Homo sapiens: one gene and its partners. The protein of the gene in region 2 interacts with the protein of the main gene of each other region in a pairwise test. Each region holds a gene or a part of one and is shown on either strand. Other genes may lie near its edges. The genes, in order: RACGAP1, MEGF10, TAOK2 and ARHGAP32.

Region 1 (8,264 bases), on a different chromosome or scaffold from region 2:
GGGCATGGTGGTGGGCACCTGTAATCCCAGCTACTCGGGAGGCTGAGGCAGGAGGATTGCTTGAACCCGGGAGGCAGAGGTTGCAGTGAGCCGAAATCGCACCACTGCACTCCAGCCTGGGCAACAGAGTGAGACTCTGTCTCAAGAAAAAAAAAGAAAAAAAGAAAACCTGGATGTGAAATCTGTCACTTACTATCATGTGGCTCAAAAATGTCAGTTAACTCCTCTGAGCCTCAGTTAATTTGCTTGGATTTTTATAAGGAAATAAAATGGTACAAAAGCAAAACATTTTGAAAATCTTAGGTGATATATTCAAGAAAAAATGTAAACATGTGTCACTAAAAAGTACTAACAATGGGCCAGGCACAGTAGCTCATGCCTGTAATCCCAGGACTTTGGGAGCTGAGGCAGGGGGAGCACTTGAGCCCAGGAGTTCAGGACCAGCCTGAGCAACATAGCAAGACCAAGTCTCTACAAAAAATTTAAAAATTAGCCGGGCGTGGTGGCACACATCTGTATCCCTACTACTCAGGAGGCTGAGGCAGGAGGATTGCTTGAGACTGGGAGGTTAAGGCTACAGTGAGCTATGATTACACCCCTGCACTCCAGCCTGGGTGACAGAGTAAGACTCTGTCTCAAATTAAAAAAAAAAAAGTACTAACAATTGCTTCAGAAAAGTTGGTCTCTTTAATTTAGTATTACTCACAGAATGGAAAGAAACTTACCTCTGTAACCAATAGTTACTTCTGGAGAGTAAAATTGGAATGAGGAAGGAAATTTGACATTTAACTTTATAACACTAAAGTATTTAACTTTATTCCTGGTATTTATTACTTTCACAATTAAAAAATTAAAACACAAACAACAATCACAGATTTACCGTCTTAGAAACAAAGTCATGCAGGCGCATCCCTCCATTACTCTGTGGCGTGCCCACACTGTCTGTCTCAGTTCTTGGCTCCAGCTGCCTGCTGTTCAGGGTGGAGTCACTGTTCCAAGGTTGTAAAGTACCTAGAAAACAAGCAACTTTTAAGCTTTGTGTCTTAAGTATTTTGCTCCTTCTAAATTTTAGCTCCAATTTTAACTGGGAGATAAACAGTAATCTGTTATCATAGCCAAAAGTGAGAACTAATGGCTATGTAAAAAAACAGTTTCAAGAAAAACTAAAGTTATGCCAGTGGGCTAGCAATTCAAAGGTAAAGCATGACACAAGCAGTTCTCTGGTCCTCGGTATGCAGCAGTAAGAAACTACCCAATACATCCAATCCCCGCCTCCAGAGGGTTCTAAGAAACCAACTCTCCAAAATTTTGCTAGTTGTTTTACACAGGCCAGTTTAGTCACAAATTCAATGGACCTGTTTTCCTTCGGCTCCTGGTCCAATATGGCACAGTCTCAATAGTGGACACAGCTTCGATGGGCCCGCCATCATTGGGAACAGTCACTGTAGTTTTTGCAACTATGGATTCATTCCCCTGCAACAAAAGTAGTAATGAGGAAAGACAAACAAAGAATCTAACTTACCCTCCACTATAGGGTATTTTGGAGCAGGTAAAAAATTCCTTAGTCTTAGTCAAGACTTAAGACCCCAGTCTGATACTTTTTTTTTGAGACAGAGTTTTTCACTCTACCGCCCAGGCTGGAGAACAGTGGCGTGATCTCGGCTCACTGCAACCTCCGCCTCCCAGGTTCAAGGCATTCTCCTGCCTCAGCCTTCTGAGTAGCTGGGATTACAAGCATGCGCCACCACACCTGACTGATTTTTTTTTTTTTGAGACGGAGTCTCGCTGTGTCGCCCACGCTGGAGTACAGTGGCCCAATATCGGCTGACTGCAAGCTCCACCTCCCGGGTTCACGCCATTCTCCTGCCTCAGCCTCCCGAGTAGCTGGGACTACAGGCGTCTGCCACCATGCCCAGCTAATTTTTTGTATTTTTAGTAGAGATGGGGTTTCACTGTGTTAGCCAGGATGGTCTCAATCTCCTGACCTCGTGATCCACCCGCCTCAGCCTCCCAAAGTGCTAGGATTACAGGCGTGAGCCACCGCGCCTGGCCGACTGATTTTTGTATTTTTAGTAGAGACGGGATTTCGCCATGTTGACCAGGCTGGTCTCGAACTCCTGACCTCAGGTGATCATCCACCTGCCTAGGCCTCCCAAAGTGCAGGGATTACAGGCGTGAGCCACCACGCCTGACCTGAAACATTCTTATGTTGAAATCTGATGTTTGGCTGGGTGCAGTGGCTCATGCCTGCAATCCCAGCATTTTGGGAGGCCAAGGTGGGAAGATCACTTGAGCCCCGCAGTTCGAGTCATCCTGGGCAGCAAGGAGAGACTCCCCCTCTACTTTAAAAAGTAAAAATAAAGAAATCTCGTACCTAAGAAGATAAACATAGGTCATGGGGGTATATATTCAAGCAACTAAGACTCACTCTGACAGTTGTTTACTACATCAGAGTAATTCCATTCATAGGGATAAGGATCCTACTGCATAGAAAAACTTTAACCAAAGGCCAGGCACGGAGGCTCACGCCTGTAATCCCAGCACTTTGGGAGGCTGAGGCAGGTAGATCACCTGGTCAGGAGTTCGAGACCAGCCTGACCAATATGATGAAACCCTGTCTCTACTAAAAATACAAAAATTAGCCAGACGTGGTGGCATGCGCCTGTAATCCCAGCTACGTGGGAGGCTGAGACAAGAGAATCACTTGAACCTGGAAGGTGGAGGTTACAGTGAGCCAAGATGGTGCCATTGCACTCCAGCCTGGGCTACAAGAACAAAACTCTGTCTCAAAAAACAAACAAAAACTTTAACTAAACATCATGTCTCTCAAAACAATGCTGCAATGCTGACTCAGAGAAGTTTTAATGCTTGGGGCCAGTAATCTCTGTTACCTTGGCCTGACTATTCTTACCTGGTCTACTGCAGAGCCAATGGAACGAGTTTTCTTTACAGGTCCAGGGGGACCATCAACAAACTGTCGGCTAGTAGAGCGCTAGAAAGGAGACAAAGACCCGTAACTTTAATGCCAAGCAGATCTGAAGCACAGAAGATAAAATTATTCCATCAAACAACTTGGATACAGGTCCTGGGGATTAGGGCTACAGTAAATAACAAACAATGTGTTCTCTCTCTCTCTCTCTTTGCCTATTTCCACATGAAGAATAAGCTGTTTCAAAAGAATATGTTGTACAAAAATGCTCTCAGTGCCCTAGAAAAAATGAGCAAGCTATGGAGAAATTTAGATGACACCACCAGAAAAAGTACAGCTGTAATCCTAACTAAGGACATGAAGTCTTGGAAACACATTAAGTACCCTAAACAAGCATACACAGATAGATCTCTATATATCCCATTATATGAAGCTTATATTAGAGCACAAAAGTTCTGTGTAAAAATTCATATGACAATTCAAAACAAACTTAAGTTTATCCTTTTCCACTGTATGAATGAATTGAAATGCAGCCTAAACAGTGAAATGGACAGGATTCTGTCCTAAGTTACTACTTCAAAGAGTACCAGTACTGGTTGGGAGCAGTGGCTCACGCCTGTAATCCCAGCACTTTGGGAGGCCGAGGCAGGTGGATCACCTGAGGTCAGGAGTTCAAGACCAGCCTGGCCAACATGGTGAAACCCCGTTTCTACTAAAAATACAAAAATTAGCCAGGCATGGTGGCAGGCACCTGTATCCCAGCTGCTTGGGAGGCCGACGCAGGAGAATTGCTTGAACCCGGGAGGCGGACGTTGCGTTCAGCCGAGATCGCGCCATTGCACTCCAGCCTGGGAAATGAGCAAAACTCCGTCTCAAAAAAAAGAAAAAAAAAAAAAAAAAAGAATATCAATACTGTCCCCACAGCATGAATTCATCTGTAGTATGTGCTTAACAATGGCTAGAGCAACATGACAGGAATGCAGTATCATGGCAAAATTTCCAAAAATAACTCCATTATTACTTTGTTTTAAAAAAAGACTAAACAAATCATACATACCCTCTTTTCTCTCTTCTTCAGTTTGAAAGTCTTCACCAAAGAAGAGTCCCAATCCTGTTGACAATTACACTGTATTAATTTCTTTTTTTGGTTAGGCCATCCCTAAACCCTGTGCAAATAAATTTACAGAGAACTTTAAAGGCTTCTTCAGTCAGGCTACCTAACGTACAATTCGGGGAGGGTTAGAGAAGGGAAGGTCTCAAGTGTTGTAGCTATAGAGCTATAGTAAGTTAATGTGCTTTCTTTGAAAAATTGAAGCTATTATAATAAAATCAGGAATCAATACCACAGAGGCAAGAAGAGGTTAAAGAATCAAATTCTGCCATATTTCCAGTGGCTGATCCTTTATTTCTGATTATTTTTGTAATTAGTTTTAGAACTTACAGAATGTTAGGCACTATACTGATTGTATTAGATGTGATTCTTGCCCCCAAGGGATTGCCACTGTCTAATCAAATGCTCTGCATAATATTGCCACTTCACAAGTTCCACAGTTGCCAGGCGATGGCTCATGCCTGTAATCCCAGCACTTTGAGAGGCCAAGGTGGGCGGATCATGAGGTCAGGATATCGAGACCATCCTGGCTAACACGGTGAAACCCCGTCTCTACTAAAAAAATACAAAAAAATTAGCCAGGCGTGGTGGCGGGCGCCTGCAGTCCCAGCTACTCTGGAGGCTGAGGCAGGAGAATGGCATAAACCCGGGAGGCGGAGCTTGCAGTGAGCTGAGATTGCGCCACTGCATTCTAGCCTGGGTGACAGAGTGAGACTCTGTCTCAAAAAAAAAAAAAAAAAAAAAGTTCTACAGTTTAGGAACTTAGGCCCTAAAACGTGTCCACCACTGAAGAACTATTTGTCTTTTATTGTGGTCTCATTTCAATTCACCTATTTTAACTATTTGCATTCATTTTAGTAGTTACCTGTGATTTCCTTACTCCTGATCATCCCTGAAAACAGTATCTAGAAACAGTGGTATACAGCAAATAATAGCTTAGCTAAATAAATTTAACTTCCCCAAGTCATGGTCCAGTAATTTAGTTACTGGTTGTTTGATTCAGCTTCAGTTACAAGAAATATCGTATCATAGGTCTAGCTCAAAAATCAACTGATAATATGATCTAGTTTTATTATATATTCCAGACCTCCACTATATCATTCCCTATTTGAGAAAGGTGATGCCTAATATTTTTATCTATAAAATGGCCGTATTTTCCCTGGTCAAACACTGAATCTGAACAGAAAACTCCTAGCCATGTAACAAATAGTTGTCACCTGTTTTGCTATACCAGAAAACCAGTCACCAAAAACTTCCTGATTTGTTTTGTTTGCTAGTTTTCAGCTAGTAACAGAAAAGATGCACAAATCAATGAACTATATCAAAGACTGTATCAGGAGATGACCTTTTATGCAGAAGCATCACTGTAAGTTAAAAGAAGTGTGCCGCCCCATAAAAGCAGGGCAACAAATAGTTTAACATGTTAACCATTGTTGATGAAAGCATTATATAGTGCCTAGAAACTCTAATCACACTTTTCTGGCTGAAATCCCAGGACCTTGGTTTCCTTCTAATTGTGAAGTATGACTATGCTTTCCCCAAGAACCAAACTAATTCAGAAATAAGGCACAAGTCTATTTAAGAGCAGCAAATAAACCCTGACGACATACAGTCTTGCTAATATTTTTATTATTAGCTGGGGCTTTAATAAGTCAAAATATAATCAGTTAGTACATGTGGCACACAGAGATCTATTAAATGAACTCAACTTATGCCAAATTCTGAATTATATATTCTCACTTCAGAAACTAATATATAAGCCAGCCTCTTATAGCTCATGTGGATTTATATTTTAAATTGCTAGCTCAGAATCTATAACACATCAACTAATAAAATAGTAATATAGGATGTTCAGAAGAGAAGACAGGAGAGATATTCCTGGGGAAGCAGAGGTAAGAAAAGTAGGTAATTCTCAGAGATCAAATGTTTATTACCAGTGATTCATCAGTCTTGTCAAAGCTGATATCTGATAAAATGGAACCAGATTCATCAATGGTTGATAGTCTAGATCAGTGAAACAATACAACGTTAGACATGGTAGACTGTGGAATGTAAAATTCACCAACATTCAGAACAAGTCCTACTGGTCAGGTAACATCAGTTAATTTCATAGCAAAATCTTCACTATAGAGACAATTACAATCTCAAACCCTGTGGTAGGCTACTTTGTATGGTTTCCACGGAGGAGTGTGTGTGCATGAGTACAGGTGCAACACAGTTGCTTTTTCAGCAAAGACCTTATAAGGGCAGTTGAAAGTTAGTCAGGGTTATGGGTGCTATTCTCTACCGAGTTTGTATTACAGGCTACTCCAAATTCACAAAATCAAGGGAATGAAGTTTAATTTGATCCCAACTGTGCTGGTTTCTACAAACAAGAGTATTACCCAACACTGACTTTTTAAGAAATTAAGCCTGTACATCTTCTTAGTTATAAAGATTCCCCATAAAACAACCAGGCAACAAAATAAATAGCTGACCTTTCCCTACATATTGTACTGGGGATGTTAAATTCAAAGCCTGGTTGAGACTATTTTAAACAGTGGTGCAGTGGAACCAAAATTATTGTCTGGTCTTGGCTCACAGAGGCCTTTCTAAACCAGAAGAGCTGTAAGAGCTCTCTGGAGAGTAAACACTGAAAGTATTGCTGAACTGCCACTTTCACCTTTGGGTTTCTTAGCAATGCACAGGATTAGTTATTGATGTGCAATTTAGCACCAACATCAAAATTGTATCCATGGTGAAACAACATCCTTAGGAAAGATTTAAAAATAAAATAAAATAAAATATACAGGGACATCCCTGTGCCTTTATTCCCCACCTACTCTCCCCACAAAATCTTTTTCTGCTTTTTTCAGCACACATTCTAGAAGAAGTATATTTAAGAATTCAGATAACAAGAATATCTGACAGCCTGTGTTGCTTGTGATAGGATAACAACAGATGCAGTTCCTCCACCTTTTGTTCCCAGCATTGCTGCTGGATGGTTGGCCTCTGTTGAGAAAAGCCAGAGCTGATTTTTGCTCCTCGCTTAGTTGAATGCTGCCAGATGTGTCACACATGAGCATCTCTCGAATCAGCTGAATCTGTCGTTCCTACAGACCAAAGCAAAGTAAAACATCATAACTAGCCAGGGGAGAAAGCTTCACCTCAAGTTTATGGGACAGGCAGACCAGAAGACATTAAAATGCAGCATTATGCAAATGGACCTTCAGGAAGGCTGCTACACCAATAGCATATTAATTCACATCAAACCCAGATTGTGTCTCTGATTTCTGACTGGTAAAATGAACTACATCTAGAACAGCGAAGTTTCTGCTACAAGACTTTTGGATTAACCTGCTAATCCAAGAGGAGAATAATGCAAAATGAGAGTCCCAAAATAGATTTCACATAGCAAAAACACTTTAGTGTCATTTTATCAGGACAAATATTGGCTTCTACGGATCAAAGCAGCCACCCACCTCTCAAAGTAGTGGAGCAAAATGCATTAAAATGGATACAAAGCTATAATGCACTGGAACCAGACAATTTGAGTTTACTGAGGCATCTAACACTGTATACCAAGATGGATTAGTCCCTCCCAGTAAAGGCTTTCCTTTGCATTATGACCCATCCTGGCACATCAAAATGATAGTGTTCTGTGTCAGTCACATTGCTCAACTGGTTGAATACATCTAGCCTTTTACCCTGAATTAGAGAGGGGTGATGAAAAGAAGAGTCACAGTTGTCTTGCCTGTATGTATGACAAAGTACCAGCTACTCATGTAAGGATGGATATTCCGGGTAGCACTTAAAATAAACAATGAAGGATGGCCAATAACTTGTGACAGATCAAGTACGTTAGGATCTCCCTCCCTCCCTTTTCCTCTAATTCTTTAAGTTCTCATTTGAAATCTGTCTGTTAAGTAAGTTTCAAGTCTAAGTGACAAAAACATTTAAATTTCAAATTATGAAGAACAAGATTCCTAGTCTGCAATTTCAGCTCTAATCATGGGCAAGCTGTTAAAGAACAGGTCACTTTCAGTTCTTTAATGTGGAAGAAGAAACTAGGTATATTTGGCAAGTGGAAACTGTCAGACAATGCCTTCCCCCTCCTGCATCATCACTGTTCTAGCACGGAAAACAATACACACCAGCTTTTCGCAGTCAGCCTCAGCTCTCTGTCTCCGTTTGATCTCTACATCCACCTGATTACGTGCATGCTTCAGCTTAACATCCAGAGCA
Region 2 (8,264 bases):
TGGGTTACAGGCTTGGAAACTGCACTGCATAATTAATGGTATATCACAGAAGTTCTTTAAGTATGGACCAAGCATTCCTGCCCCCTTTTCAGGAGGCCTATGAGATCAAAACTATATATACACATATATATTTTAAGAGGTGAGTCTCGCTATGTCATCCAGATCAGACTCAAACTCCTGGGCTCAAGCAATCCTCCTGCCTCAGGCTCCCAAGTAGCTGGGGCTATAGGCCTGTGCCATTGTGCCCAGCTGCAAAACTATTTCCATAACAATACAACAACAATATTTGCCGTTTTCACTCTAATTCTCTTTCAAGTGTACAGTGGAGTTTTTCAGAAGCTACATAAAGTATGAGATCAAAACCAACTGAACGTAAAAGCAGACATGATAATCCAGCTATCTTCTATTAAGCTGGACATTAAAGAGATTTTTTTATAAAAATGTAAAATAGCATTGCTCTTCTCGCTAATTTTGAAGGGTTTTGGAAAATGTAGTTTTTTTTAATAAAAACACAATTTATGTTACCATGAAATGTGATTATTATTAATTTAAATAAATTAACATTCTATTTTTTCCAGTTTTTATTTACATATTAAATTTCATTTAGTATGGTAAATATAAATAGATATAGCCCCTATCAACAGAAGCTCTTTTGGGTCCTCAATAAATTTTAAGAATGCAAAGGAGTCCTAATTTCAAAAAGTTGCCCGAACCACTGATCCACTGTATTCCTGTTGGTATCTCTGATTCCTCACCTGAAAGGGAAGGGGATCTCAAGTACAGATACCCTATATCAAAAGAGAACAAGGAAGAGCACACAGCTGTGAGCCAAGCTGACAGGGTCCAATACTAGCTCTAACATTTAACAGGCGATGAGGTCCTGTGCAAGTAACATAACCTTGTTATGACTCAGTTTCTCAACTGTAACATGCAGATGGTGATAACAATAGTACCCACCTATTAGAGTACTTGTGAGAATTAAGTTAACAGGCATAGAGCAAGAATGTAAGCTACGAGCAGGCAGAGATCCCAATCTCTTTTGATCAATTCCTGGCACATAGTAGGAACTCAATAAATGTTTGTTGAATAGATAAAGCCCTTAGGACAGTAGATAGCCCTGTACAGGTGTTAGGCATAATTCTGCTATTGTGCTTTTTGATGCAAGTTTTCAATAGAACACCTTGGCACAAACAGAGATCCGTGACTGTTTCAGGGACTGACAGGTCAAGGTGCTTCTGGGGACGTGCGTTGGGAGAACTCACCGAGCTCGTTGAGGTAGCCGCCATGTTTCCAGTCAGCCGGCAATGTCCCAGTGCAGTCCCCCACAGGGCCTCTCTTCCCAGGGTTCACATTTTTAAGATTCACAAACAGTTGATTGTTTTTTGACTGTTAAAAATATAAACAACGAAAGATTAAAAACAAAATACAATGCGGCACAGCACAGCGTTATGGACCTGGGGAAAAGTCCAGGGCACATATTGAGGACCAGTCCTTAGAGTGACCTGAGCTCAGGGGCCGAGGTGACTGCTTGTAACCTGGTGGGACTTGCAAGCTGGCAGGAGTTCATGTCCTTCAGTCCTAGCTACTCCCTCCACCACCTCAAGATCTTCATTTCACTCTGTCATCCTGTGCCAATTAGACCTTATTTGGATTTATACACATGTAACTTTGATTTGGAAAAAAAAAAAAAAAAAGAACTCTTGGTCTAAGTTCTTCCATCAAAAATTGTATGTTTGTGTGAATCACAGGTGACTCTTAGCAGTTATCCTAGGCGTAAACATGAGGATAAGATTATCTGCTTTGCCTCCTTCCCTGAATTTGTATGAGAATAAATTGATGAATGTGAAAGTCTCTGGGGTATGTGGAGTGATATTTAACCATGAAGCACTATAATTAAAATCTATAGCTGCATTAATTAAATTACAACTGGATTAACTTAATTAGCTTGATTTTTTTTCTAATAGAGCACTGGAATTAGACAACAGAGATTAGAAATATAATTTGGGTATGACTGGAAGAAAGAAATGTTTGAGACTTCAGAGCATTGTGGGGAAGACCTGGGGTGAGTTGGGTGCTATTGGAGTAGCAGCTCTGGGTTCTAGACACTCTGTCTCCAACCTCTCTGTGACTCAGTTTCCTCATCTGTAAAATCGGCATAATAATCACTCTTGATTTATAGGACTGGTGTGAAGATTAAATGAGTTTATATTTTTAAGTGATTAGAAATGCTTGGCACATAATATTAGGTTGTTGCTATGTGACCACTGTTGACCTACAAAAATAGCAATTTCATGTGGTTCAACCCAAATCAGTGCCTATTACTGTTGTTGTTACTAAAGCACAGGTGGCCAGGAACGGGTACTGGAGGACGGGCGGTCAGAAGAGACACACTTGGAGATTTTGCCCACGGCTGATTCTGCTATAGGTCTTTATGTTTTTGTTAATGTCATTATGAGTCATTATTTTAAAATCTCATGTAAAATTAGAAACGTTTTTCTAAAGCGGTGTAATGGAAACAGTACAGATTGTAGAGACAGAGAGACTTTGACTCACACAGCAGCTGCCTCACTCATTATCGGGCAGCTATGTCTGGAAGTAACTTAAACTCCCTACTACTCAGGTTTTCATCAGTAAACTTGAGATTCCCAAAGCACACTCAGAGGACTGTTTAGAGGAATAAATTAGATAATATATGTAAAGTACCTAGAACAGCCTCTGGTGAACAGCGGCCCTCAATAAATGCTGGTTCCCTTCCTCTCTCCCCAGCCCACTTCCAAAGACTTGAACCAATTCCTCTCACCTTCGTGACAGTCATCCTGTCCCTGTTGTTGACGTGAGGGGATGTGGCACACTGGGTGAGCGTGTGGTAACTGGGATTGGTGAAGTAGTGGCTATTAGCGTTTCCACCATTGCTGTGAGGAAGGGTTCCTGCAAGAAGGGAAGGAAATGGTTAAGGCAGCAGGCTCCCATAAATGTGTGTGAAAAAAGGGAATCAAAATAACAAAACAGGCCCAGCGAGGTGGCTCACGCCTGTAATCCCAGCACTTTGGGAGGCCAAGGCGGGCAGATGACGAGGTCAGGAGATCGAGACCATCCTGGCTAACACAGTAAAACCCCATCTCTACTAAAAGTACAAAAAAAATTAGCCGGGCACGGTAGCATGCGCCTGTAGTCCCAGCTACTCGGGAGGCTGAGGCAGAAGAATCGCTTGAACCCCGGAGGTAGAGGTTACAGTGAGCCGAGATCGCACCACTGCACTCCAGTCTGGTGACAGAGCGAGACTCCATCTCTAAATAAAAAAACAAATAAATAAATAACTGAACAAATGTCCGGACTCCTTCCATATCACAAGCTGGGCAGAATCTCCTCCTGCCCAGCCTACTCAGCAAAGCTTCTAGAAGCAACAGGCCTCTACCTTCCTAACTGCCTCCTTGGAAAAGTATGAAAGCTTGTGAACAAATGTGAAACTGAAAGAACCAATTATTTAAGATCCATAGGAGTGGCTGCCTAGGCCTAAATTTAAAATCGAGTCAAGCAGGCCTTTGCTGACTAAGGATCACACCTGTACTCTGAGTTCCCTGAAAACCCAGCTTTTTATCTTTGGGTCTTTCAGAGCTCAGCTGAACCAACCAATCAGAGCTTACCTGCCTTAGCTAATCAGGGCTTAGCTTTATCAAAGGATCAGGGTTCCGCTGTGTCAACCAACCAGAACTCAGCTGCACTGATCAATTAGAATTAAACCAGTTTCAATCCTTCACTTTCCTAAAAGGGCCTGATTGGAAGCTGGGTGGGGACTTTTGCTATAAAACCCAAGCCTTCCCTTTGTTCTCTGAACTGCACTTTCATTTTACACTGGCTGCAACTCCTGGGTTTGCAAACCGTTCACTGGAATAAAATCTCTTTCCCCCAAATTCCTTTTCAGAGAACTTTTGTTCACAGTATCCACAGATAACTGCTCTTTGCTTTGGGGCTGGTACAGCTGGGAAGGTATCATTTGAAGCTACTCTGCAACTTTCCTTTTTTTAAACACTTGAGTTCTTGACACAATAATTCTGCACTGAAAATGCACTACTATGTAAATCAGCTACTTCTCATATTTCCACGGAATTTTGTAGTTTTAAACATGTAACCAACCAGAAGGCCTTCAATAATCACCCAAAAAGTAATAAAGATTTTAAACTTTTAAATTCCTCCATGTAAATGGTTGCTTCTACTGATGATTGATTATAATTTTATTTTTCCTTTTATGAGGCATTGTGACAGAACAGAAAAAATCAAGAGTTTTCTTAAAGGGCTGCCTTGGTTCTTGCTAATACCAAAAAGCTGTTTCTGATATAACTTTGTTCCCTTCAGTTAACGATTCGGGTAGGCCTAGGGAGAGGCTGGGAAGCACATAGAAAGTACCCTCATTCAGAGACAGGAGAACTGGTCCCTAATCTGATCCATGACCTTGGTAAACTTATCATCCTCTCTTCCTCCTCACCCCCCTCACATATGACAAAAGCTTGAGGCTGGATACAAAGCTCCTTATGGATTGAAATTCCCTAAATCTAAACCACAAACACAATGAGCTCAATTTTAAAACCCTTATAGCAAACCACAGAATGACAATTTACTATTGTTGAAATAAAAAACTCATCTCTAGCAATGTATACCTTTTCCAAACATAGAATTCTCTCAATGAGAATTGACAGAAACAATGGACAGCACAGCCAAACACCCAGTTTTAAAGAACCCGAATGAAATTTAACTTTTCAAGAAGCAAAATGCCTCTCCTGCCTCTGCTCTTACCTGAAATGGTATAATCTGCATTGACGACCCTCATAGCAGGGGTGTAGGTAACTGCTGGCATGCTTGATTCCTTTCCCTTCTGCTTGTGTCTATAAATAATGAACAATGCCAGTAGGAAGAGAACAACTAGGACAAGAATGATGATGCCTGCAATGGCCCCGATCTGGTAGGAATCAGCAGGGAGAGCAGTACTGGTTCGGCTTAAGCTGTTCAGATTTCCAACTATGATAACACCAGCTAGAAAAAGAAGAGAGACTTGAGAAAGGATGACAATGTGCTGGATAAACGTTTGATCTCTACTTACAAAAACCTCCTTCTGTGCTAATGCCTGCATATTTTCAGTTCATAAAACATTAATTTGGAAACAGAGCAGGAAGAAAAAGCAAACATTCCTCATTGTCAGATGTTGTCGGCCTATCCATGCCCAGAGAAAGGCTGCTGTAAGCCTCAAAAAGAGACAGAAGCTGGGCACAGTGATGCGTGCCCGGAGTTCCAGCTACTCAGGAGACTGAGGCGGGAGAACTGATCTAGCCTAGCAGTTAGAGACCAGCCTGGCCAACATAGCAAGACCCTGTCCCTAAAAAAATATAAAGAAAGAGACAGGATTTTCTGAACCCAAAGAGATTCAACAGTAGGATTTGAGAGCTTCTTATATATTTCCGATTAAATACTTAGACTGGCAATTAATTTGGGGTAACAATTTATCTAATTTTTATTTTGCTTTATTTATTATTCAATACTGAGCTTATGCAGAGTTAAATGCTAAATGTCCCAACTGCTTAACCAAATTTTATGTCTATCCTTAGCATTTCTAAGAGTAATTTTCCTTCCAAGCAAGCATAACACCATTATAAATCTAGTCTAAGAACAGGATCTACCTTTTGCTAATTTCAATGGGTCTTTTACCTCAGAAGATATTGTTCTGTGCAAAGTTATTTTCCATGACAGAAAGATTTGTCCTGATAATACCTGATAGCATTACCCTAATACCTTACTCATTAAATTCAAAATTGGGCATTACATAGTTCTTCCTTATGGTCCGTCAAGTGATAACGCTAAAGGCATGGGTTGAGATTCAAGAAATCTGGCATCTAAAAAAATTGACCTAGATATTCTGAACTTTCACTTAAGCTTTCAGGCTGCAGTTTTATCATCTATAAATGAGAAAAGAGGCCTCCATGTCACTGCTTCCAGCTCAAGTAAATGTTCCTATGATTTTATGATTCTAAATGCTGAAGGACCTTTTTACAAAACAATCTGCCCTGAAACACAGACCACCAAGGATAATGTAGTGAGATTACAGAGTATTTGTAATTATGACGTGATAATGAAAGATCACATTCTATTGTTATGACAGTCAAATGTAAATCATAAGCATGTAAAAGTCATTTTACCAAAGAAATTAAATGTTGTAAATATTTACATGGTCTGCAGTTTAAGATTACTCCATCTACAACAGTGTATCAATTTTCTAAAGCCTTTTATAGCCCAACTGCTTATTGCCTACCAGGGAGTACCACATGCAGTAAGAGCTGTGGCTCTCTGGAGGGCATGCTTCAGAACCATCAGAAGCACTTTCTCAAAGTCCCCAACCCTGGAATCGGAATTTCCCAAATAGGACCATGTACCTGACAACTATTCCCAGGTCGTTATGACATACACCCCAATTGAAAACCAGGGGCACAAGTTTTACAAAAAGTTAAACATATGTCTACTATATACCCCAATTATTCTACTCCTAGGTATTTACCCAAGAGAAATGAAAGCACATGTCCATGCAAAAACTGGATTCACTCTTGTTCATAGCAGCTTTATCTGTAATAGCCCCAAACTGGAAACAATCCACCTGTCCATCAGCACATGAACAGGTAAACAAATTATAGTATATCCATACAATGGAATAGTATTCAGCAATGAAAAGAACTGAATTGTTGATATGTGCTACAACATGGTTCCATTTCAAAATAATTATGCTGAGTAAACAAAGCCAGACCCAAAAGAGTACAGTATGATTTCATTTATATAAAATTCTAGAAAATGAAAACTAATCTATACTGACAGAAAAGAGATGAGTGATTACCTGGGGCTTAAGGGGTGGTAGAAGTAGGGAGGGGCATGAGGAAACACATGGTGATGGATATTTCATTTATTATGGTGATGGTTTCATAGGTATATAGATAGTCGAGATTTTATTAAATTGTACACATTAAATAGGTGTGTTTTTTGTGTATCAATTACACCTCAATAAAGCTGAAAAAAAATCATAGACCCAGTAGAAAGTTCATGAGTTTTGGAATAACAAAAATCTGGCACAAAAGCTGTGACATATTCTAGTATTAGCTATGTGACTTTGGGAAAATTACTCAGCCTCTCTAAGCTTTTGTTTCTTTATCTGCAGGACAGCAACAATAAGGCATTCATCTGGCAATTAAATAAGTAACCAATTATGCCATTTAGAGTTGTGGTGAAGATTCTGCTGGATAACATAAGTGAAAATACTTCACATTGCCTGGTACATGGTGTTCACACAATACTGCAGTGCTACAAACATTAGCTAGTATATTTACCTTGATCACATCTCGCTCCCTTCCATCCGGGGCTGCAGTAACAGGTCCCAGTGATGTGGTCGCAGGTGGAGTTGTTCAGACAATCACATATCTGGCGACAGCCATAGCCATATGTTCCTGAAGGGCACTCTAGAGAAGGAAAGTCAAATGTAGCTTTCCAACCTTGGGAATTTGGAGCAAGGCTGTCTCTGACTGCAAGCCCTGCACATCTAGAGCTGAGTCCTTTCAGGGGATTCCTATTGAGGCTGACTTGTACCCCCAAGAGTGTCCCAGAACTGGACAGCATTCCTGGAATCATGGTGGCACTCACAGTCCAGACTGCACAGGGCTAGAGACAGGGCTGCTCAACATTAGAGCTCCTGACACTTTCAGCTGCTACATACTTACCTCTATGATGTGTATATGGAGAGTCTGTGGAATTCCCATGGAACAGATGAAGATAATCACTAAGGGCAATTTGATACAAGTCCACCAGGCAAAACTGTAGGCTGGAAGGGGCCTAGACTGAAGAGCACTAAAGATGCTTTCTTGAGAACATATATATTTTACTGTAGGCTCAGGGATCTTCATAAACGCACATTCTCAATTGAATTAGCCAGGAATAGGGGAAGATGCAAACAACAAGTTTTGCTGATTTTCTAGGTAAGAACTTCATTTGCTATGGAGTGATTCAAACTCTGGATTTTGTTGAAGTCTTGAAGACGAAAGTAATAGGATTCTTACTATGCGGTCTTAATAAGAGTTAGGCATGAATTTCAAAGGATAGTGTAAGCATGTTAAATCTAAAAATCTTCGTGACAAAATATTGATATTTTTCATAAAGTGAGCAGCAGGGGGCAATGTGCTATTATTATTAGAACTCTCTGTCAAACACAGGGTTTCTGTTTACAAATAAGCATTGGGAGA
Region 3 (7,277 bases), on a different chromosome or scaffold from region 2:
CTCCAGTCAGGACACTGGTGAGGACTGAGATTCCGAATCTGGGCCCAGGCGTTAGGCCATGGGGTATGGATGCCTGACTCATGCCTTCCCCACCCCTCTCCCACCCTCCTGTGACTTTCAGGTCTGAGTACTTCCGGAATTTTGTCGACTCCTGTCTTCAGAAAATCCCTCAAGACAGACCAACCTCAGAGGTTCTCCTGAAGGTGAGGGCCTGCTGGCCTAGCATTCTCCTGGAACTGTAGCTTGTTACAGCCACAAGAACCCCCAGGGAAATTAGTGGTTCCCAGTTCCTCCTCCACCAAGAGCTTCGTTGATGAATTCCCACCCCATCCCCAATGCCTAGTGGACTCTGTGTTTTACAAGATTTTGTCTACCAGACTGCCTTAATTTATTAAGTAATAAACTGTTTTCCCTTCTTTTATTAATCAAAGATTTATATAATTGCCAGCCAGAGCTTCTGGTCAGCATGTGATAACCAGGGTTGCCCCACTGATCTGATGTAATGCAAGCCAAAAGCCTGTGTAGCCTTATCATGGGTAAATGTATGATTTCCCTTAGGTGTTTTTTGAATTATCAAAAATGGAGGGGCCCCATTCCCTTCACAGACCCATGGGGGCCTGAGGAGCCGTAGTTGGAAACTTCAGATTATGTAGTTGGACCCACTTGTTTTATAATTGTAGGATACTGTATGAAGCCCAGAGGGGCCTCATGACATGTCCAAGGTCACATAGCCCTTTAGTAGAGGAGCTGGACGAGAATCCAGTTCTCCTGACTGTCCCTGCCTGTCAGCCATGCTTAGAGGAAGAAGAGTCTGTCTGGGGAGTAGGTACTGGGTGGTACAGAAAATTGTGAGAGAAGGGCTTGGGATAAGGCCAGCATCAACCCGTGGTGGGCGTGGGCCCCAGAAGAGTGCCTCAGGCCTGAGGGAATGCCAAGGGCTGTGGGTTGTGGGGGGAAGGGGAGTTGGCAGCAGACCTCAGTGCCCTCTTCCCCCAGCACCGCTTTGTGCTCCGGGAGCGGCCACCCACAGTCATCATGGACCTGATCCAGAGGACCAAGGATGCCGTGCGGGAGCTGGACAACCTGCAGTACCGCAAGATGAAGAAGATCCTGTTCCAAGAGGCACCCAACGGCCCTGGTGCCGAGGCCCCAGAGGAGGAAGAGGTGACCCAGCTTGCCCTAACACCCCTCTTTATACCCCATGTGTGCCTGCCCCCTGCAGTTGCTTGGCCCCTTCCCCAGCCCTACTCACACCACCATCTTCCCATGCTACCTCCATGCATATGCCCCAGGGCTTCCCCTTCCCTGTCCAGCAGCCTACGCCCTGTTCGCAGGAGGCCGAGCCCTACATGCACCGGGCCGGGACTCTGACCAGCCTCGAGAGTAGCCACTCAGTGCCCAGCATGTCCATCAGCGCCTCCAGCCAGAGCAGCTCCGTCAACAGCCTAGCAGATGCCTCAGACAACGAGGAAGAGGAGGAGGAGGAGGAGGAAGAGGAGGAGGAGGAAGAAGGCCCTGAAGCCCGGGAGATGGCCATGATGCAGGAGGGGGAGCACACAGTCACCTCTCACAGCTCCATTATCCACCGGCTGCCGGTACACAGCTCACCCTTGGGGGACCCGAGCCACCTGCTCTAGAACTGCCTGGGTCTTCGCCCTCCTTCCCTAAGTGCAGCACTCCTCTGAGTCTGATTGGCTGTCCTCAGGTAGCTCTCTTTGGACCCAGTGGCCTCTGAGCCTTGGGTGTTCCTTCTATCTCCCTCTAGGGCTCTGACAACCTATATGATGACCCCTACCAGCCAGAGATAACCCCCAGCCCTCTCCAGCCGCCTGCAGCCCCAGCTCCCACTTCCACCACCTCTTCCGCCCGCCGCCGGGCCTACTGCCGTAACCGAGACCACTTTGCCACCATCCGAACCGCCTCCCTGGTGAGTGTAGCCATCCTCACTCAGCCTGCTCGCTGTCTGTTTTTTAAGTCTTTTTAAGTCTAGAAATGATTTCCTCCCTGTGGCATGGGATTGAGTCTGGATTCTACCCTCATTTTCTGTTGCTGGCTCCTGCCTGCTCCCCTTAACCCTCCTGCTTCCCTCCTCTTCCCAGTGGACTGTTTTGGTCATATGGCCCAATCTGGGTGTTTCTAGCTTGGCAAACTCTTACTCCGTTTTTGTGGCCTGACTTAACTGACATCTCCTGGGTTGCCTTCCCAGGCTCCTCTGGTGAGTCAGATGCTTCACAGTTGTGTGCTGGGGAAGCCCAGTGCTGGGGGAGCCCTGTGCCTGTGGAGCCCTGTGCTGGGGGTGTCCAGTGCTGGGGAGCCCTGTGCCGGGGGTGCCCTGTGCTTGGGTGGTCCTGAACAGCATCATGATAGGTTTGCCAGATTCTGTGCCCCAGAGGGCAGGGATGGTGTTCAGATATCTGTCTCATGCCAGCAGTTAGCTCTCAGGCTTACACACAGGCCTGTGTTAACCCTCCCAGCCCCCCTGGGAGGGGAAGGGTAAGATCCCATTGGAGAAATGAGGCACCTGTGGCTCAGAGGGGCCACTTGCCCCAGTGCCTTTGGTGGCTCTCTGCTCCTGTAAGCAGGCCCTTAGTCCTCTCCTAAAATCAACTCATGGCAGTCTTTCTCAGTTCACAGGAAAAAGTGTTTAGGCTTTTCATAAAACATAGTTTTTCATCTATGTTTTTAGATCACGTTCCTGCTGAGCTGCATTTGAGCGTCAACAATCCCCTTAGAGGCCACTGATTAAGTCTAGTATGTTCTTATGGCCTCTGCTTGGTGCTGGTTGTGTTCCAACAATTCTTCAGATCCCATGGTGTTGTGCGGTACTGTGCTGAGAGGTCTTGACTGCCAGGGGCTTGGCTGCCGGGACTAGTTTGAGAGCCACTCATAGAGTCAATTGAGAATGAGACCTGAGATCAGACTTTGGATGAAGGTGTCCAAGCCCAGTGTTCTTGTTATTCCAGCATCTTGTGGCCCCGATCCCACCTCAATACCTGGGGAGTGATAGGCCGACCATGTTTGCTGAAGGGGAAGGAAGCCAACACTTATTAGATAGAGTCCGAACTTACCCCACAGCCCCTATGAGGAGGTATTATTTCCCCATTTAACAGATGAGGGAACTGGTGCTTTGAGAAGTTAACTTACTTGAGATCACATGCTTGGTAAGTGGCAAAGCTGGGATTTGATCCCAGGTATGTCTGACTCACTGTTTCAAATTAGTATGGATTGTTCCTACTTTTGTGCCAGGCCCTGTGCTCGCCACCTTTTATCATTCGGCCACACCAACTTGTGATGTAGATAATATCACCATTATCCAGTTGAGGAAACAGGCTAGAGTGGCCGTGTGTGAGGAAGGTGTTAAATGAGAATGAAACCCATGAGTTGAAAACCCATGCTCTTCCCCACGGAAGACCCCTTGTGTTAATTAACTAGGGGCCAGGCTGAGCCCCAGCTCTCACCCTCTCTCCTTCCCCAGGTCAGCCGTCAGATCCAGGAGCATGAGCAGGACTCTGCGCTGCGGGAGCAGCTGAGCGGCTATAAGCGGATGCGACGACAGCACCAGAAGCAGCTGCTGGCCCTGGAGTCACGGCTGAGGGGTGAACGGGAGGAGCACAGTGCACGGCTGCAGCGGGAGCTTGAGGCGCAGCGGGCTGGCTTTGGGGCAGAGGCAGAAAAGCTGGCCCGGCGGCACCAGGCCATAGGTGAGAAGGAGGCACGAGCTGCCCAGGCCGAGGAGCGGAAGTTCCAGCAGCACATCCTTGGGCAGCAGAAGAAGGAGCTGGCTGCCCTGCTGGAGGCACAGAAGCGGACCTACAAACTTCGCAAGGAACAGCTGAAGGAGGTGAGCTAGGGCTGCTTGGGGGCGGAGCCGATGGCGAGCCAGGTGGGTCCTGACCCTGCTTCCCTCTGCACTCGCCCAGGAGCTCCAGGAGAACCCCAGCACTCCCAAGCGGGAGAAGGCCGAGTGGCTGCTGCGGCAGAAGGAGCAGCTCCAGCAGTGCCAGGCGGAGGAGGAAGCAGGGCTGCTGCGGCGGCAGCGCCAGTACTTTGAGCTGCAGTGTCGCCAGTACAAGCGCAAGATGTTGCTGGCTCGGCACAGCCTGGACCAGGACCTGCTGCGGGAGGTAGGCATCCCAATCTCTGTTCCCCTCCCGCTCACTCGTGGATCCCAGGGACCCACCCTTTTCCATTTTCCTCATTCTTGTCTTCTTTCTCCTTGGCCCTCGAGTGTTACAGTTCAGCTTTGCTTCAGTGCCCCTTTTACTTCTCATCCCCAACAGACCCTGCCAGAATTTCCTTAGGCCTCTTTTCCCAGGCCAGGGAGGAGCTTGCCTCCCCTACACCCTCATCTCCTGCCATCCCCAGCTCCCTCTGCCAAGGAGCCCTGGCCCCTCACTTCCTTGATACTGACCAGGCCCTGGGCCCTGTGTTTCTTCCGCCATCCCCAGCTCCCTCTGCCAAGGAGCCCTGGCCTCTCACTTCCTTGATACTGACCAGGCCCCGGGCCCTGCATTTCTTCTGCCTCAGGACCTGAACAAGAAGCAGACCCAGAAGGACTTGGAGTGTGCACTGCTGCTTCGGCAGCACGAGGCCACGCGGGAGCTGGAGCTGCGGCAGCTCCAGGCCGTGCAGCGCACGCGGGCTGAGCTCACCCGCCTGCAGCACCAGACGGAGCTGGGCAACCAGCTGGAGTACAACAAGCGGCGTGAGCAAGAGTTGCGGCAGAAGCATGCGGCCCAGGTTCGCCAGCAGCCCAAGAGCCTCAAAGTACGTGCAGGCCAGCGCCCCCCGGGCCTTCCACTCCCCATTCCTGGGGCTCTGGGCCCACCCAACACAGGCACCCCTATAGAACAGCAGCCCTGCTCACCTGGCCAGGAGGCAGTCCTGGACCAAAGAATGCTTGGCGAGGAGGAGGAAGCAGTTGGAGAGAGAAGGATTCTGGGAAAGGAAGGGGCCACTTTGGAGCCCAAGCAGCAGAGGATTCTGGGGGAAGAATCAGGAGCCCCTAGTCCCAGTCCACAAAAACATGGGAGCCTGGTTGATGAGGAAGTTTGGGGTCTGCCTGAGGAGATAGAGGAGCTTAGGGTGCCCTCCCTTGTACCCCAGGAGAGGAGCATTGTTGGCCAGGAGGAGGCTGGGACATGGAGCTTGTGGGGGAAGGAGGATGAGAGTCTTCTGGATGAGGAGTTTGAGCTTGGCTGGGTCCAGGGCCCAGCACTGACTCCCGTCCCTGAGGAGGAGGAAGAAGAGGAAGAGGGGGCTCCGATTGGGACCCCTAGGGATCCTGGAGATGGTTGTCCTTCCCCCGACATCCCTCCTGAACCCCCTCCAACACACCTGAGGCCCTGCCCTGCCAGCCAGCTCCCTGGACTCCTGTCCCATGGCCTCCTGGCCGGCCTCTCCTTTGCAGTGGGGTCCTCCTCTGGCCTCCTGCCCCTCCTGCTGCTGCTGCTGCTTCCATTGCTGGCAGCCCAGGGTGGGGGTGGCCTGCAGGCAGCGCTGCTGGCCCTTGAGGTGGGGCTGGTGGGTCTGGGGGCCTCCTACCTGCTCCTTTGTACAGCCCTGCACCTGCCCTCCAGTCTTTTCCTACTCCTGGCCCAGGGTACCGCACTGGGGGCCGTCCTGGGCCTGAGCTGGCGCCGAGGCCTCATGGGTGTTCCCCTGGGCCTTGGAGCTGCCTGGCTCTTAGCTTGGCCAGGCCTAGCTCTACCTCTGGTGGCTATGGCAGCGGGGGGCAGATGGGTGCGGCAGCAGGGCCCCCGGGTGCGCCGGGGCATATCTCGACTCTGGTTGCGGGTTCTGCTGCGCCTGTCACCCATGGCCTTCCGGGCCCTGCAGGGCTGTGGGGCTGTGGGGGACCGGGGTCTGTTTGCACTGTACCCCAAAACCAACAAGGATGGCTTCCGCAGCCGCCTGCCCGTCCCTGGGCCCCGGCGGCGTAATCCCCGCACCACCCAACACCCATTAGCTCTGTTGGCAAGGGTCTGGGTCCTGTGCAAGGGCTGGAACTGGCGTCTGGCACGGGCCAGCCAGGGTTTAGCATCCCACTTGCCCCCGTGGGCCATCCACACACTGGCCAGCTGGGGCCTGCTTCGGGGTGAACGGCCCACCCGAATCCCCCGGCTACTACCACGCAGCCAGCGCCAGCTAGGGCCCCCTGCCTCCCGCCAGCCACTGCCAGGGACTCTAGCCGGGCGGAGGTCACGCACCCGCCAGTCCCGGGCCCTGCCCCCCTGGAGGTAGCTGACTCCAGCCCTTCCAGCCCAAATCTAGAGCATTGAGCACTTTATCTCCCACGACTCAGTGAAGTTTCTCCAGTCCCTAGTCCTCTCTTTTCACCCACCTTCCTCAGTTTGCTCACTTACCCCAGGCCCAGCCCTTCGGACCTCTAGACAGGCAGCCTCCTCAGCTGTGGAGTCCAGCAGTCACTCTGTGTTCTCCTGGCGCTCCTCCCCTAAGTTATTGCTGTTCGCCCGCTGTGTGTGCTCATCCTCACCCTCATTGACTCAGGCCTGGGGCCAGGGGTGGTGGAGGGTGGGAAGAGTCATGTTTTTTTTCTCCTCTTTGATTTTGTTTTTCTGTCTCCCTTCCAACCTGTCCCCTTCCCCCCACCAAAAAAAGAAAAAGACAAACACAAATAAAATATCTGAGCGGAACTGTGCCTTTGGCCCAGGCTGCCTCTGTCTGCTTTGTCCTGCCGCCTAGCCTCCCCGGTATGCCCCCAGGCTGACCCTCGGCCCGGCTCCATGACCTCTTCACCCCATCTCCGTTATCTCAGCCCCCTCACTCCTCCAGCCTCATGCTCTCTGCCTTCATAGCTTCATTGCACCATGACCACCACCGGCTCTGGGGTCTGGGCCCCTGTAGAACTTCACCGAACTTCTTGGTCCCACAGAGCGCCTGTTTGCGGGTTCCTTCCAGAGGTCTTAGTTTCCAGGCCCTTGGTCTCCTCATCCCTTGCCTTTTCTCCCAACCATGGCTGCAGGGGACCAAATTGCTCTCCTGCATCAGGCATTACCCTAGTGGGTTGGGGGACGGGGCTGCAGACCCTCCACAGTAGGGGGTGCTGAGCTGGGGGCAACCAGGCGGAGTATGAAGGCTGTGGCAGCAGGATTGAGTGTGGGCCTGGAGTGGGAGCTGAGTGTGTGAGGGGCCGGGCTGGAATGCGGATCTGGTCAGGGTGGTAGCTGCTGGCCGGTTGAACTTGTCAGGCCCTTTCTGGCCACCTCCTTTGCCCCTTTCTCCTCTGCGGCCCAAAATGGGGCAGCCCCTTCTTA
Region 4 (8,264 bases), on a different chromosome or scaffold from region 2:
GCACACGTATGTTTATTGCGGCATTATTCATGATAGCAAAGACTTGGAACCAACCCAAATGTCCAACAATGATAGACTGGATTAAGAAAATGTGGCACATATACACCATGGAATACTATGCAGCCATAAAAAATGATGAGTTCATGTCCTTTGTAGGGACATGGATGAAATTGGAAATCATCATTCTCAGTAAACTATCTCAAGAACAAAAAACCAAACACCGCACATTCTCACTCATAGGTGGGAACTGAACAATGAGAACACATGGACATAGGAAGGGGAACATCACACTCTGGGGACTGTTGTGGGGTGGGGGGACGGGGGAGGGATAGCATTGGGAGATATACCTAATGCTAGATGACGAGTTAGTGGGTGCAGTGCACCAGCATGGCACGTGTATACGTATGTAACTAACCTGCACATTGTGCACATGTACCCTAAAACTTAAAGTATAATAATAAAAAAAAATTGGAAAAGAAAACATTTTTCTTTATTTGAAGACATAACATGTAAATAAACAATCTAAAAGACTCTATAAGCAATTTAGAATTAATACATTAGCAAGATCACTGGTTTACATGGTCAATATATTAAAAAAATCGTGTATTTACATATACCACTATATACAATTATTTATTAAGAGAAAAAATAAATCAACAATACTAGTTTTAATATTTTTCATACAATAGACTACTACTCATAAATAAAAAGGAATTTGCAAAAAGTAGATGAATCTCATAAATGTTGTGCAACAGAAGTCAGACATTAGAGTACATGCTATATAATTCTATTGGCATTAAGTTCAAGAACAGGCTAAATTAATCTATTGTGACAAAGTCAGAATAAGTTACCTTTGGGAGAAGTACTGACTAGAAGGGACAAAGGTTTTGTGTGTGCTAGAAATAATCTATACCTTGATTGGGTTGTGATTATCTGGGTATATATTTTGTATAAATTTATCAAGCTGTACATTTATGATTTGTAGACTTTATTATATGTGTTATACCTCAAAGTGTAAAAGTTTATTGGTAAATGTTACACAGTTTAAGAGGTATAAAAATTATATTTATATATACATTATGGGCCATGCAATGATGAACCAACTCAATAAGAAATTTAGTATCCATTTATTTGACTCTCTTGTTCTATGCTTTTAAAATTATGGACAAATTTTATGCTTAAAGTGTTTGATTGTAGTTTCATATCTAACAAAAAAGCTGTAGTTAAGGGCTGCCAACCATAATACCTAAGTAACCTACTGCTGTATTTTTTACCAGAGTTTTCTGTAAAACATCTTCAGACTTAAACCTGAATGCATTCAATGAAAATGAAAAATAGGAGAGAAAACTACTTCCCCCAAATTGAAAGATTATGGGAACCAGCCTTATCATCTTGCTGTTTCCCTCACTAAGAAATTATGTAAATATCTGTCACATATTCACTTTATTTGTATGAGATTCTTGCTCATAACTTATGAAAAATTACACTTGACAATGTTGAAGTTCCACAGAGAAGTCCAAGCGGATTTCCTTCTCAAGACAAATATAGCATATTACCCAGGAACTGCACCTCAGGGACTGTTCACTCCCAGGAATATCTTTTCTTCATCCCTGGAATAAATTCCAAGCAGGATATCTTTCTCTTTCTATTCTTCCGATCGGTTTTTGTTTATTTCTTATTCTTCGCCAAATTTGGTTCTGGCTCTGCAACAGTTGTCGCCAGTTACTATCCACTGGTGGCAACAATGGCTGGAAGTCCATTTTATGGTCAGACCATTTGATATCTACTCTCTATTAGCAACAGAGAATTTGGTTTGTTAGTCAATTTTTGTCTGTCTGTGTACAAATATGCCTCAATTCCACTGGAGAGAACAGCTCTTTGAGATATGTCCGAAGTGCTCAGTTTGGTGTTCTCTATTCATTTTACCCACGGCTGATGATATAAATCTGAGACTACCAGCGTTCTGTGTGCCTGGAACTGATAAAAGTCATTATCTGCTTATCATAGGGTGCAATAAATTTTCCTACTTTTCAAAGGATATTAATAAATTAAATTGTAAAGCCTCTTAAAATACAGGAACTCTGTTCTGGTTAGCCTATGTGGACTAATAATCACTTACATAAATCTAATATTCCCAGAATTCCTAAAAAATAAAGAAACTAACCCTCTAACACCGATGAGGACAGTTACATTGGTGGTGACTATGGAACAGAGGTTTGCTGAAGCCAGTTGGAATTCAGTTTTGGTCACTTCCCACTCAAAATGTCTTATATACTATAATTCTTCATATGTATTACAATTGAACCATACACAAATCAAAAAGGCATATAAAGAAAAATTATTCCCATCCCTGTCTCCAATCTGCCCAATTCCAACCCATTAAATTCTCTACCTGCCAAGGTAATCAATTTCCAATAGAGTCTTCTAAACTTTATTACTATAGCTGCATATATTCACACATAAATTATTCATATGTATGAAAAAATACAGCCACACAGAGTATAAAAGCAATGTGTAAATATGCTGCTTCTTAGTAGGTTTACACATTGTTGTATACCTTGTTTTCCTCTAACTTTTCCTGGAGACTTTCCATATCAATACATAGAACTTCTTTGCTGTTTTTACAACTATATAATGTTCCCCTGTGTAGCTATTCCTTAATTTATTTAACTAATCCCCTACTGATGAGTACTTGAATAAATTCTTTCCAATCTACTGCTATTACAAACAATGCTACAATAAGTTTGTGCATTTATATGTCATTCTATATATGTACAAATATATCTGAAAAACAAATTTTCTACAGTAAAAAAAATATTTTTATATATTAGCCCATTTTTCTATTGGGTTGTTGGACTTTTTCTTAACCATTTTTAGTTCTTTGTATATCAAGGAGATTAATCCTTCATCTGTAATATGAGTTTCAGGTATTTTTCCCAGGTCGTCATATGTCCTTGCTTACTTTGTTTTTTGTAATGCAGATGTTTTATATATTGTAATGTAGATATTTTATGTAATGTAGATGTTTTTTGTTTTATGTAGCCTCATTTCTCAACCCTTTCCTTCATGGCTTTTTCTTTTACTGCTTTAAATCATAGTTCAAAATGCCTTCCTATTATAAAAAAAAATTGTGTTAATTCTCTATGTTTTCTATTACCTTTTTTTTTTTTCTGGAGACAGGGTCTCGCTCTATTTCCAGGGCTGGAGGGCGGTGGTGTAATCGTAGCTTACTATAGCCTCAAACTCCTGGGCTCAAGAGATCCTCCCACTTCAGTCTCCTGAGTACCTGGGACTACAGGCAGGTACCACCATGCCAGGCTAAGTTTTTTATTTTTCTTTTGTAGTGACGGGGTCTTGCTATGTTGACTAGGCTGGTTTCAAACTCCTGGCCTCAAGGGATCCTGCCACTTTAGCCTCCCAAAATGCTGGGATTACAGACATGAGTCACTGCACCCGGCCTTAAAAAATTTTTTATGTTTTCATTTAGTACATTTAAATCTTTGATCATTTGTAATTCATCCTTGGTATGAGGTAGGATTCCTATTTTCTTTACTTCCACAGGTGAATATTCAGTTTCTCCAAAACTATTTACTGAATAGTACATATCATCTCCATTAGCTTTTGAGAAGCCATCTTTACCATACCTAAATATTCCTATGAACGTGGGTATATTTTCTAGGATTTCCATTCTACCCCATAATACTTCTCTTCATGTCCCACAACCAATGGGTTTTAATTACTGAGACTAAGACTTCACAATACAACATCTAGTTGCAAAAGTCCTCTATATCCACTACCCTTGTTCTTTTTCTTTTTCCTACAAAGTTTCTTGGTTAAATTATTTAGCCAAGATCAATTTATTTAGTTTTTTAAAAAGGATTCTTATCATCACATTAAATTTATAAATTACCTTAAACTAACATCTTTATGGTGCTGTGTATTTCCAGTTATGAAGAAGACATATTCTTCAATTGTTCCAAACTTCTTTTATGTTCTTCAATGATGTTTTACATTTTTATCATGTAGGTTTTAGAGTTTGTTGTTAAGTTTATTTCTGGTATCTCATCTTTGTTGCTCCTGAAAGTGGCACTTTTTCTTCCATTGTATCTTCTAACTAGTTATTGTTTGATATACTATTTTAAGCCCTGTTTTGCAGATAGGAAAAGTGGAATGCTTGACCATATCTTCATCATTCCTGATGTGGTAAACTATTTTTTTCTGGAAGACCCCACCTGCCAGCTGAAGAAGACACTGAAGCAGCCATTCACACTCCTAAGACCCACCAAATTGCATGAAAGGCACCACGATTCTGCCTCAGTGAATGTTCCCTGCAGAAAAGTTTCCTCTCAAAACCTATGAAAAAAACTTCCCAGTGGACTTCCAATCCTAGACTGCATATATGTGAGGAAGCAAATCTCTCCTTCTCCAAGTGTCTCAAAAATCATTAAGTTAAATAGGAAAAAATAAATCCTTAACAGAATGGTATGAATGGCACCAGAAGGCCAGAGATCAGACTTTGATACACTTCTGAAAGACTAAAAGACTGAAAAACTTAAAAGCAAGTGGTATCATACTGACCTAAAGAGAAAAACAGAAGTTCAAAGGCTATACCCCACCCCTTTCCACAACAAGAGAGATGCTTGCCCCCAGGGTACTAACAAAAACTGGAAAATTACCCTGTAAAGTAATTTAACAACTGACCAGAAGGACTAGGGCTCCTAATGTGGGTGTGTGCACCTAAGACAAGCAAGGCAGAGCCATATGCATCATGGGGGCTACTGAAGAAAACACAGCAGGGGAAAGGGCAAAGAAGCGCAGATACTTTGCTTAGCAGCTAAAAGATAGGTTCTGAACAGTCAGAATAAAACAGAACATGTACACTGAATGAATAAAGCTCCAAAGCTCAAAAAGAAAGAAAATAACCTAAATTTATTATAAAAATACCTTGTGTGTATGTATCTATACGTGAAGAACCCTTAAAAATAATTTATCTACTCAAATTGAATTTGAACAATTAAAAAAGAAGATGAAATTAGCTAAGAGAACAAGTACAAAAAAACTTCAATTCACAAAGTAAAATGTAAAAAGAAATATATCATAAAATAAAAGATTAAGGGGACTTAATAGAGGCAAAGGCAATAATAGGAAACAAAAAAATTTCTTCCCTAACACAAAGGTTTGACTCTGTAGACTGAAAGTCACTAAGTTCCAAAATAAAGAACTCACTAAGCTCCAAACTAAAGAACGGGTAACAAAATATACATAACAATAAAAAAGAAACTCTTAACAAGTAGTCTGGCAAAAAGAACATGTTACCTACAAAGGAAAAGAAAAAAACAGATTGGCATTTGAGCTTATACAAGAAATCAGAGAATATCACCCAGAGAACTTAACTGAACAAAAATACTTAAGAACGTATCAGGCAAATACAAATGATCCAAAACTGATACATTAAGATAGAATGTGATACAGAGAAGAAGCAACATAAACACTAAACAATGACACACTGTTGGTGGGACTGTAAACTAGTTCAACCACTGTGGAAGTAGGTGTGGCAATTCCTCAGGGATCTAGAACTAGAAATACCATTTGACCCAGCCATCCCATTACTGGGTAGATACCCAAAGGATTATAAATCATGCTGCTATAAAGACACATGCACACGTATGTTTATTGTGGCATTATTCACAATAGCAAAGACTTGGAACCAACCCAAATGTCCAACAATGATATACTGGATTAAGAAAATGTGGCACATATACACCACGGAATACTATGCAGCCATAAAAAATGATGAGGTCATGTCCTTTGTAGGGACATGGATGAAGCTGGAAACTATCATTCTCAGCAAACTATCACAAGGACAAAAAACCAAACACCACATGTTCTTACTCATAGGTGGGAATTGAACAATGAGAACACTTGGACACAGGAAGGGGAACATCACACACCAGGGACTGTTGTGGGGTGAGGGGAGAGGAGAGGGATAGCATTAGGAGATATACCTAATGTAAATGACGAGTTACTGGGTGTAGCACACCAACATGGCACATGTATACATATGTAACAAACCTGCACGTTGTGCACATGTACCCTAAAACTTAAAGTATAATAATAATAAAAAAATGACACAAATAATTAAATCTGAATGAAAAGCAAAAAACATTAAACTGACGGAGGCAGAATGGGTGAATAAAAGAGTTTCAAAAGTCTCATCTAGAAGTATGAGACTGAGAGAAGGAGGAAGTTAAAGTTTCCTAAAGATCTTATTTTATAAGGAAGAGAAGTAGAGGAGAAGAGAGAACCATGATTTAAAACACAAACATACATACACAGAAAGAGAGAGAGAAAACCTGGGTGAAAGAAATCATTTTATTTTCAAATAGAGAAAATACATGTATGATTATGAGAACATGGAAATGGAAACTAATCATTAATGTAAAGAAAAGTATAGCGCAACTTCCAAAATTAAGTATCTGGGAAGGTTTTGCCTGCTCTGAATATCATCTTGCTAAGCTAGTCACTTGACATATTTAATTTAAAAAAAAAGAAAATTAACTAATTTATAAATAGAGCTTTAAATGTTTCAGGGATTTCAATTTATTTTTGAAAGTCCTATTGACTATTTAAGAGAGTTCAGTGCCAAAGTGAAATGCAAGAGTTAGAAAAATTAGGTTTGGGTTTAAACTTTTTAACTTCAATTAAACAACCTAATAACCAGGAACTTTTATACAGGTCTATATCGTTTGTGTACTCTAGGGCCTTTCTTGAACATCAAAATACTCATACAGATAGATACAAGAAAGGCCCACCTTGGACTCCATCCCAAAGGGCTTAATTACTAAAATACCAAGAAAGTCTTGTACTGGCATGCCTCACGGTTAAGACAGATTCATTTCACAGATTATGAAGACAGCCTAATGGCTAGACTCCATTACTGCCTAAAATGTTCTGAGATTAAGGGATGTTCATATCAGACTTTGCTGATTACTATTAAATTCACTGATGAGAGTATGTTGGGTGAATGTTATACTTACTGTTAAAAGAATATTTTAGAAGCTTCTACACAGCAAAGAAAACAATCAACAAAGTGAAGAGACAACCCACAGCAAGGGAGAAAATATTTGCAAAAAGGGATTAATTACCAGAATATATAAGGAGCCCAAACAACTCTATAGGAAAAAATGTAATAATCCGATTTAAAAATGGGCAAAAGATTTGAACAGGCATTTCTCAAAAGACGGCAACAAATGGCAAACAAGCGTAGGAAAAAGTGCTCAACATCACTGATCATCAGAGAAATGCAAATCAAAACTACAGTGAGAGATCATCTCACCCCAGTTAAAATGGCTTATATCCAAAAGAAAGGCAATAACAAATGCCGGCAACAATGTGGAGAAATGGGAACCCTCACACATTGTTGGCAGGAATGTAAATTAGGCAACTACTATGAAGAAAAGTTTGGAAGTTCCTCAAAAAAACTAAAAATAGAGCTACCATATGATCTAGCCATCCCACTGTTGGACATATACCCAAATGAAAGGAAATCAGTCTACTGAAGAGGTATCTGCACTCCCATATTTGTTGCAGCACTGTTCACAATAGCCAAGATCTGAAAGCAACCTAAGTGTCCATCAATGGATGAATGGATAAAGAAAATGTGGTACTTATACCCAATGGAATACTATTCAGTCATAAAAAATAATGAGATTTAGTCATTTGCAACAACATGGTTGGAGCTAGAGGTCATTATGTTAAGTGAAATAAGCCAGGCACGGAAAGACAAACATCACATGTTCTCACTTATTTGTGTGATCTAAAAATCAAAACAATTAAACTCATGGACACAGAGAGTAGAAGGATGGTTACCAGAGGCTGGGAAGGGTGGTGGGGGCATAGTGGGAGGCTGGTGGGGATAGTTAATGGGTCCAAAAAGTAGTTAGAATAAATGAATAAGGCCTAGTATTTGATAGCACAATAGGGTGACTATAGTCAATAATAATTTAATTGTACACTGAAAAATAATTAAAAGAGTATAATTGGATTGTTTATAAAACAAAGGGTAAATGCTTGAGGGGATGGATATCCCATCATGAGGGGATGGTTACCCCATCTTCCATGATATGATTATTACACATTGTGTGCCTATATCAAAACATCTCATGTACCCCATAAAAATATATACCCACTATGAACCCCCTAAAATTAAAAATAATTTTTTAAAATAATATTTTAGGGGCTAAACTAAATCCCAGATGTTTCTT

What was found.
Region 1: the proteins of MEGF10 (region 2) and RACGAP1 interact in a two-hybrid assay, tested with the Homo sapiens proteins (one large-scale study listed by IntAct).
Region 3: the proteins of MEGF10 (region 2) and TAOK2 interact in a two-hybrid assay, tested with the Homo sapiens proteins (one large-scale study listed by IntAct).
Region 4: the proteins of MEGF10 (region 2) and ARHGAP32 interact in a two-hybrid assay, tested with the Homo sapiens proteins (one large-scale study listed by IntAct).

What each region holds. Positions count from the first base shown.
Region 1 is NC_000012.12:49,998,261-50,006,524, forward strand, and holds part of RACGAP1 (rac GTPase-activating protein 1), read right to left. Parts: coding exon 8,174-8,264; intron 7,133-8,173; coding exon 6,996-7,132; intron 6,045-6,995; coding exon 5,975-6,044; intron 4,041-5,974; coding exon 3,987-4,040; intron 2,993-3,986; coding exon 2,912-2,992; intron 1,474-2,911; coding exon 1,356-1,473; intron 1,012-1,355; coding exon 881-1,011; intron 1-880.
Region 2 is NC_000005.10:127,442,221-127,450,484, reverse strand, and holds part of MEGF10 (multiple epidermal growth factor-like domains protein 10 isoform a precursor), read right to left. Parts: intron 7,488-8,264; coding exon 7,359-7,487; intron 5,029-7,358; coding exon 4,792-5,028; intron 2,929-4,791; coding exon 2,801-2,928; intron 1,387-2,800; coding exon 1,263-1,386; intron 1-1,262. UniProt on the Homo sapiens protein: Membrane receptor involved in phagocytosis by macrophages and astrocytes of apoptotic cells. Receptor for C1q, an eat-me signal, that binds phosphatidylserine expressed on the surface of apoptotic cells. Cooperates with ABCA1 within the process of engulfment.
Region 3 is NC_000016.10:29,981,738-29,989,014, forward strand, and holds the end of TAOK2 (serine/threonine-protein kinase TAO2), read left to right. Parts: coding exon 1-17; intron 18-121; coding exon 122-203; intron 204-996; coding exon 997-1,164; intron 1,165-1,313; coding exon of another isoform or gene 1,314-1,334; coding exon 1,335-1,595; intron 1,596-1,765; coding exon 1,766-1,927; intron 1,928-3,475; coding exon 3,476-3,841; intron 3,842-3,920; coding exon 3,921-4,124; intron 4,125-4,527; coding exon 4,528-6,243; 3' UTR 6,244-6,621; downstream 6,622-7,277. UniProt on the Homo sapiens protein: Serine/threonine-protein kinase involved in different processes such as membrane blebbing and apoptotic bodies formation DNA damage response and MAPK14/p38 MAPK stress-activated MAPK cascade.
Region 4 is NC_000011.10:129,179,489-129,187,752, forward strand, and holds part of ARHGAP32 (rho GTPase-activating protein 32), read right to left. Parts: intron 1-8,264. UniProt on the Homo sapiens protein: GTPase-activating protein (GAP) promoting GTP hydrolysis on RHOA, CDC42 and RAC1 small GTPases. May be involved in the differentiation of neuronal cells during the formation of neurite extensions.